Linked DNA regions of Homo sapiens. The protein of the gene in region 1 interacts with the protein of each later gene in a biochemical or structural test. Each region holds a gene or a part of one and is shown on either strand. Other genes may lie near its edges.

Region 1 (3,819 bases):
CTCCCTTTCACTTATGATGATGATGGTGGTGGTGGTGATAGTGATAGTGGAAGCTAATGTAGATAAAATAGAAAAATGGTTTTTCTTGCTTTTTATATTTGTGAGATTTAATTACTTGAACTTTGTTTATGCTGCATACTTCAATTTTTCCCCCCTTTATGTTTGGTGAGTTTCAGTTTTACTAAAAGATAAGCTTATTTGGAATGTGTTGACTTTAAGCAAACAACAGTTTGAAAGTAATGAGGTTTTTGTTTTGTTGTTTTTTTAACTTTAGTACAGCATCTGTGTTTCAAGCACAGATTTAAGAGAATAATATAACCATCCTTTTTACTTTTCTTATTTTTTTTACTTGAAATTATTTAGACGTTGGTTTTACTTAAGTTTAGTAGCAGTTTTCCCACTAATTTAGAAAAATATGGACATATAATTTCCCAGAATTATTAAGGAAGAACACAAAGCAGGTATTTTAACTGATTCCATGATTTTAAGAAAGCCCTTATCATTATTTAGAGTTGAGCATTTGCAGCCCATTAGGCCATAATATATTGATGAATTGGTAGAGTTGTAATGCTTCCAAGTCTGCAATGAATCTAGTGAAGTCTCCTTTCCAAAATTGGTGTTCTGTGATCCCAGCCTGTGTGTTGGATTTGTGCTGGTGTTTTTGTTTTTAAGTGAGATTTCAAAAATGTGTAGAAGATTTTATTAGATTATTTGGGGTTTTAATATGATGAAGCAATGTATATTAAATATAGGGGTTTTAAATTTTTAATCTTTCCAGTTGGCAAGTAGATATTACCTTTGCACTAGTTATGACACTCATTATTTAATTTAAGGTTTCCTTGGGAAATGTAATGTCAGAGTACGGTTGAACTTAAGCCTCCCTTTTAAATCTGTTTTTTTTTTGTGTGTTTTTTTTTTTTAAGATTTCATGGGATGTCCTTTTGTCCCAAATTGAAAATATTTATTCTTTCTTTTTGTGATACTTTACTTGAAGGGAGCCCTGCTGTTGTTACTGGACTAAGTCAAACGCTAATGAATTCTGCTTTGCAACCTTGTCTTTCCTAATTATCTGGCCTTTCACCTCCCTCACCTGCCTTTGACCAACATTGGAAATTCTTAGATGTGATGAATTTGGCAGAGAGTCGCAGGATGTTTTTTATTATGTATTTATTTTATCAGAGTATATGATTGAACGACCAGAGCCAGAATTCCAAGACCTAAACGAAAAGGCACGAGCACTTAAACAAATTCTCAGTAAGATCCCAGATGAGATCAATGACAGAGTGAGGTTTCTGCAGACAATCAAGTAAGCAATTATTTGTTTTGTTTCTTCTTTTCTTAAAAGTACTTCCGAGGAACTACTCATCTACATTTTTTAATTTTGGTATGACTAACTTGAAATGCTTATTTGAAATAAAATCTCAAATTTTTAAATACCACATTTTATTAACTTTATGGCGTTTGGTTTCAGAGTACAGCATTTTTTAGAATGTTTAATTTTAAAACAACAATGAAATGTGCATAAACTGGAATGTAGTTTGAACTACATAAATGATGGGAAGATATAAATGTCAGATAAATGAATAGAGAAACTGGATATATCCTAGAGATTGGTAGTAAGATATACCAAAATAATTTTTATTTCAGAAATAGCAGCAGTCATTAAGGTAAGTAACGTACTCTTAGGCATGAGTAGTGTTTTCTAAGACTGACCAAATAGCCTCTAAATCCTTGCCTTTGGGGGATATAGGTTAAATAAGACCAAGAATACTCATGGGGCCAGAAGGCTGGCTGGTGAGCAGCAGCAAGAAGGGTCATCCTAGAGCAGTAGTTCTCAGACCAGGGACACTCTTCTGGAGTACAGTGAAGGGTGAGAGGGTAGGGGATTGAGTGAAAACATAATCCCTACATAAGTATCTTTAAACTAGAAAGTCTGATAATTTTCTTCAGCCTCAGTGGATAAAAAACAAAGAAAGCTGGGAATACTTGCAGTGTCACTATCAATGCATGGTTTTGGTGAAACCATAGGTAGATATTGCTGGGGAGAAAAGATTTAGCGCAGGTCTTTTTCTGGAAGAGGCTGTGACATATGTGGTAACTTTGAAGAACCTAAGGAGACTCACTTGGAATAAATAGTAACATTCATCTTTTGGAGTTTGGGCAGTGGGAGGAGTGGCAGCAGCCAGGCAGCCCAGCTTTGTGAAGGCCCTCAGCATGCCATGGCCCACATGCATCTGATATGCGCCTTCCCCACTTCCAGGATGCCCAAGAGGACGGTCAGCTCAGCTGATGGGACAGTGAGGGAAGATCCCAAAAGGAGATTGATGTGGTTGTCAGCTAAACCTGCTCTTTCAGTAGTGGAAATTGAAGCCCCAAAAGGTAGCAGGAAAAGATAAATCTTCAGGCAAAAAAGTGCAAACAAAAGAGAAAAGAGTAGGAAAGTGAAAACAAGCCAAAGTAGCTAAGAATAAAGATTTACCTGCAGAAAACAGAAAAACTAAAACTGAAGAGAGTCCAGCCTCTGAAGCAGGAGAGAAAGAAGCCCAGTCTGATTAATATCGCATACCATGTCTTATCAGTGGTTCCCCGTCTCTCTTCTTACATAATCCAGGAGAATATTTTTATCAACTATGTTGTAAATGCATGTTTTTTAGTAGCTCTAATGTTTTTTAATAGCTCTAGAAACATTTAAGGAGGGAATTCCACTGCATTCCATTTTTTAAGTGTAAATGCTTTTTTTTTTAAAGAGGTGAAATAATTTAATTTGCTGGTTATTTTTTGGTACAATGGGAAAATAATGTTGGATATTGAATTATGGGAAGCCTTGACTGTTATGGGTGTCAGCTTAACATTCCATAGATGGGTGGTTAGTTTTTATATCCCATAATATAAAGCATACTAAATGGCAAAGTGGAGTCGCAGTCCTGCATTTCATGTCTTGAACATTTTTAATTACTTCACTCTGTCACCCAGGCTGGACTGCAGTGGCATGATCATAACTTACTGCACCCTCAACCTCCTGGGCTCAAGCAGTCCTTCCACCTCAGCCTCCAGAGTAGCTAGGACTACTGGTGTACAACACCACACCAAGCTAATTTCTTTTTTTTTTTTTTAATTTTTAGTAGATAACCACATCTCCCTACATTGCCCAAGCTGGTCTCTAACCTCTGAGCTCAAGTGATCCTCCTGCCTTGGCCTCCCAAAGTGTTGGGATTACAGGAGTGAGCCACCACACCTGGCCTTAAATTACTTCTACTCTTCATGTTGTTTTTTAGTGGAATTGTTTCCTTGGGCAAACCACTCCTTGAGCCTGGCTCTACCTATCAGAATTGTGTGCACTCTGTAACATCTTTGGTCATGGTAGTCCTGTTTTTCTAATAACTTTGTTAATGTGCTGTGAAAGATTAAAGTATATAGTGTATATGCTATTAAATTGTGAATTGGTGGGACGTATGTGACAGCTTATCAACATTTGAAGGTACTGGTACTTGATAGCCTTTTAAGGTAATTTTGCCTCAGTTGTAAGCTGGAAAGTCACTGGAATAACTTTAGAGAATAATAATGATACGTGGCTTTTTAGATTTTGCAGTACATATGTTCAGAATTATGTACAAGTTGAAATGTCTGTGTACTGATCCTCAACACAACTGATGAAATCTCAATTATGAAAGAAAAAGAAAACATTCATCTTTTGAAAATAGTATTCTTTGTCATTCACATTGAGAAATGCTATTTTAGCTTGTTTGGATACCTAGCTAGTTTGGATACTCTCTTTTGAGTCACATAAAGAGAGGAATATGTCCCATAGAAAATAATGGT
Region 2 (3,819 bases), on another chromosome or scaffold:
ATCCACCCATCTTGGCTTCTCTAAATGCTGGGATTATAGGCATGAGTCACTGCCCCCGCTACGATTGATATTTGAACATTGAATTAGCCTTGCACACCTGGGATAAATCCTGCCTGGTCGTGGTGTATAATTATTAATACATTATTGGATTCAATTTGCTGATTTTTTGTTTAAAAGTTTTGGCCAGGCATGGTGGCTCATGCCTGTAATCCCAGCACTTTGGGAGGCCAAGGCAGGAGGATCACTTGAGCCTAGGAGTTTGAGACTAGCCTAGGCAATGTGGCGAAACCCTGTCTGTTAAAAAAAAAAAAAAGAAAGAAAGAAAGAAAAAACAAAAAATACAGGCTGGGTGCGGTGGCTCATGCCTGTATTCCCAGCACTTTTGAAGGCCGAGGCGGGCGGATTGATTGAGCTCAGGAGTTCGAGACCAGCCTGGGCAACATGGCAAAACCCCGTCTGTCTCTACAAAAAATACAAAAATTAGCTGGGCCTGGTGGCATGTGCGTGTAGTCTCATCTACTAGTGGGAGGATCGCTTCAGCCTGGGAGGTTGAGGCTGCAGTGAGCTGTGATTGTGCCACTGCACTCCAGCCTGGGCAACAGAGCAAGACCCTGTCTCAAAAATGTGTATGTGTGTATATATATATATTTATTTTAGTGGTTGCCTTAGGGTTTGCAATATACATTCACAACTAATCAAAATCCACTTTCAAATAATGCTGTGCTGCTTCACAGGTAGTGCAAATACCTTGTAACCAAGTATTCCCAGTTCACTCCTCCCACTGCTTATAACATTGCTGTCATTTATTTCATTTATCCTTAGGCTACAGTCACCCAATACACAAATTTTATTTTGAACAAATTGTTAATGTGTTAGAGCAATTAAAATAAGAAAAATAAAAGATTAATTTTACCTACATTTATTTCTTCTCTGATGCTTTTCCCCTTCTTTACATAGATCAGAGTTTCTGACCAAATCATTTTCATTCTCTCTGAAGAAGTTCTTTTAACTTTTCTTGAAATGTTAAATCCCTGAGTTTTTGTTTTTCTGATAAAAATCTTTATTTCTCTTTCACTTTTGAAGGATAATTTCACTGGATACAGAATCAAATAGTTCCCTCCTCTCTCTTCTTGCTTGGATGGTTCCTGAAGAGAAATCCAGTGTCATTCTTGTTCTTGCCATTTTATAGGTAGGATGTTTTTTTCCTGTGGAAAAAATTCCCAGATTTCTGCAAAGAGAGAATCTTCCTTTCTAATTTTCTTTTTGTCTTTGATTTCTGCAGTTTGATGTGATTTGCCTCAGTGTAAATTACCTGCTTTTTACCGTTTCATGTTCTCTGACCTTATTGGATCTGTGGATGGGTGTCTGACATTAGTTTGGGGAACTTCTCAGCTCTCATTACTCCAAATAGTTATTGTGTTCTTTTCTTTCTCTTGATATCCTCATTGCACATATGTTACACTTTTTGTAACTGTCCCACAGTTCTTGCATATTCTGTTTTCTTTCTTTCGTTCTTTTTTCCCTTTGCTTTTCATGTTTGGAAGTTTCTGTTGACGTATTCTTAAGCTCAGAGAGTCTCTCCTTGGCTGTGTCCAGCCTCTTGAGCTTGTTGAAGGCAGTCCCCATTGCTGTTACAGGACTTTTGCTTTCTGGCATTTCCTACTGATTGTTGCTTAGGGTTTCCATCTCTGCTTATGCTGCCTATCTGTTCTTACATGATGTCTACTTTTTCCGTTAGAGCCATTACCATATTAATCGTAGTTGTTTTAAATTCCCAATCTGGTAGTTCCAAAATCTCCACTATGTCTGAGTCTGGTTCTGATATGAGGAACTTAGGCGTCAGGTTAATAGGCCTTAGTGTGAGGTACGTTTGGCTGGCTGGGAGTTGGGCTGTGTTTACTGTTTGCTGCCCTTGTGATGCTGGGGGATAAAAATCTCCTGTGTATCCTTGTTTTTGTCTTCCATTGTTTTTGGGTTTTCTTCAAGATTCCTTCTTAAATAGAGTCTGAGGCCTGCAGTTCTTATAGGTGTGCATCCCTGTTATTACACAGGGGTCCTGTTGATGTGGCTTTCAGGGGAGAGGAAGTGTTCTGTAGTCCTGGGATTAGGTCTCAGTGTTTTAGTGAACCTGTGTCCCTGGGCCGTGGCCTTCACATGTGCTTCTCAGTTTTGTTTTTTTCCTCCCCCTTAGGAGAGACATAAACGATAGAGGAGGCAGGAATTGGGTGTTTCCTTACCCCTAGGTGGTTAGGCTCTGGTAAAATAGTTTTCCTTGAGGAAAGCCCTTTGTTAAGGATAACAGAATGCTCTGGTCATGCCTTTTTCTTTCTTTCTTTCTTTTTTTTTTTTTTTTTTTGAGATGACCTCTGAGCCCTTTATATGTTGGTTGGGAAACTGGAGTGCAGTGGCACCATCATGACTCACTGCAGCCTCAACCTCCTGGGCTCAAATGATCCTCCCATCTCAGCCTCCTGAGTAGCTGGCACCACAGGCACACTGCCGTGCCCAACTATTTTGTTGTTGTTGTTGCTGTTGTTGTTCTTGTTGTAGAGATAGGGTCTCACCATGTTTCCCAGGCTGGTCTCAAACTCCTGGCCTCAAGCAAACCTGCCGCCTTGGCCATCCAAAGTCCTGGGATTATGGGCATGAGCCACCACACCTGGCCTGGTTATACTTTTAAATGATGTATTCTTCCCTCCTCCTACCAGAGTATGAGGAGATGTTTCTCCAGTCTCACCCTGAGAGCCTGGTGGGGCTCATGGAGGTAAAACTCAGACTGGTATGGGGACCTCCCCAGTGACTATTCCCCTGGAGTTTTTGTCTCCTACTGGTCCATGCTCAGTCTCTGCCATTTGTCAGTTCCCCTTTCCTCTCTGCTGGTGCTGGCTCTAGGGTTTCTGCCCCGCAATGAGCTGTGATTCTTAGCATTGCATATCTGTCTCTCCATCTTTGGGGTTATTGTTTTTTCATGTGACCTCAATTATCTGATGGATCTGAGAACAGTCATTGATTTTAAGTTTGCCAGCTTTCTTGTTGTGAGGATGGGAGTGATGACTTCTGAGCCTTTACAAGCTGGACAGGAAATTGGAAAGTCCCATTTCATTCTTTTTTAATAGAGAACTTAACTGTGTGAGGTAATGAACAACTGAGAAATGTTGAGTGCAAGAAGCCTGTTCTTGGGAAGAATCAGCAACCCATTTTAAAAAACAGAAACATTGAAAATGTTATGGTGGTTGGTAAGATGCAGGCAGGAGCACAGCAGGTACAGTGCTGCTGCCCACAGCCTTCTACACCTGAGGCCCTGCATTATGGAGGTTTGCTAAGCCAAGTGCCTCATGGCCATGTGTGACCAAAAAAACCTTTTTACTAAATGTTTTGTGCTGCTATAACAGATACCACAGACTGGGAAATTTATAATGAATAGATATTTCTAGGCTGTGCATGGTGCCTCACACCTGTAATCCCAGCACTTTGGGAAGCTGCGGTGAGCAGATTGCTTAAGTCCAAGAGTTCGAGACCAGCCTGGGCTACATGGCAAAACCCTGTCTCTACAAAAATTAGCCAGGCGTGGTGACACACACCTGTAGTACCAGCTACTCAGGAGGCTAAGGTGGGACAATTGCTTTGAGCCTGGGAGGCAGAGGTTGCAGTGAGCCAAGATCACGCCTCTGCACCCCAGCCTGTGTGATAGAGTGAGACCCTGTCTCAAAAAAAAAAAAAAAATCGTATCGTTCTGGAGGCTAGGAGGTTTAAGGTTGAAGGGCACAGCTGGTGAGGGGCTGCATCTGCATCTTATGTTATCCCAGGGCGAAAGGTGGA

What was found.
Region 2: the proteins of PDCD10 (region 1) and CCM2 form a complex in vitro, tested with the Homo sapiens proteins (one study listed by IntAct).

What each region holds. Positions count from the first base shown.
Region 1 is NC_000003.12:167,693,083-167,696,901, reverse strand, and holds part of PDCD10 (programmed cell death protein 10), read left to right. Parts: intron 1-1,179; coding exon 1,180-1,306; intron 1,307-3,819. UniProt on the Homo sapiens protein: Promotes cell proliferation. Modulates apoptotic pathways. Increases mitogen-activated protein kinase activity and STK26 activity. Important for cell migration, and for normal structure and assembly of the Golgi complex.
Region 2 is NC_000007.14:45,059,120-45,062,938, forward strand, and holds part of CCM2 (cerebral cavernous malformations 2 protein), read left to right. Parts: intron 1-3,819. UniProt on the Homo sapiens protein: Component of the CCM signaling pathway which is a crucial regulator of heart and vessel formation and integrity. May act through the stabilization of endothelial cell junctions. May function as a scaffold protein for MAP2K3-MAP3K3 signaling.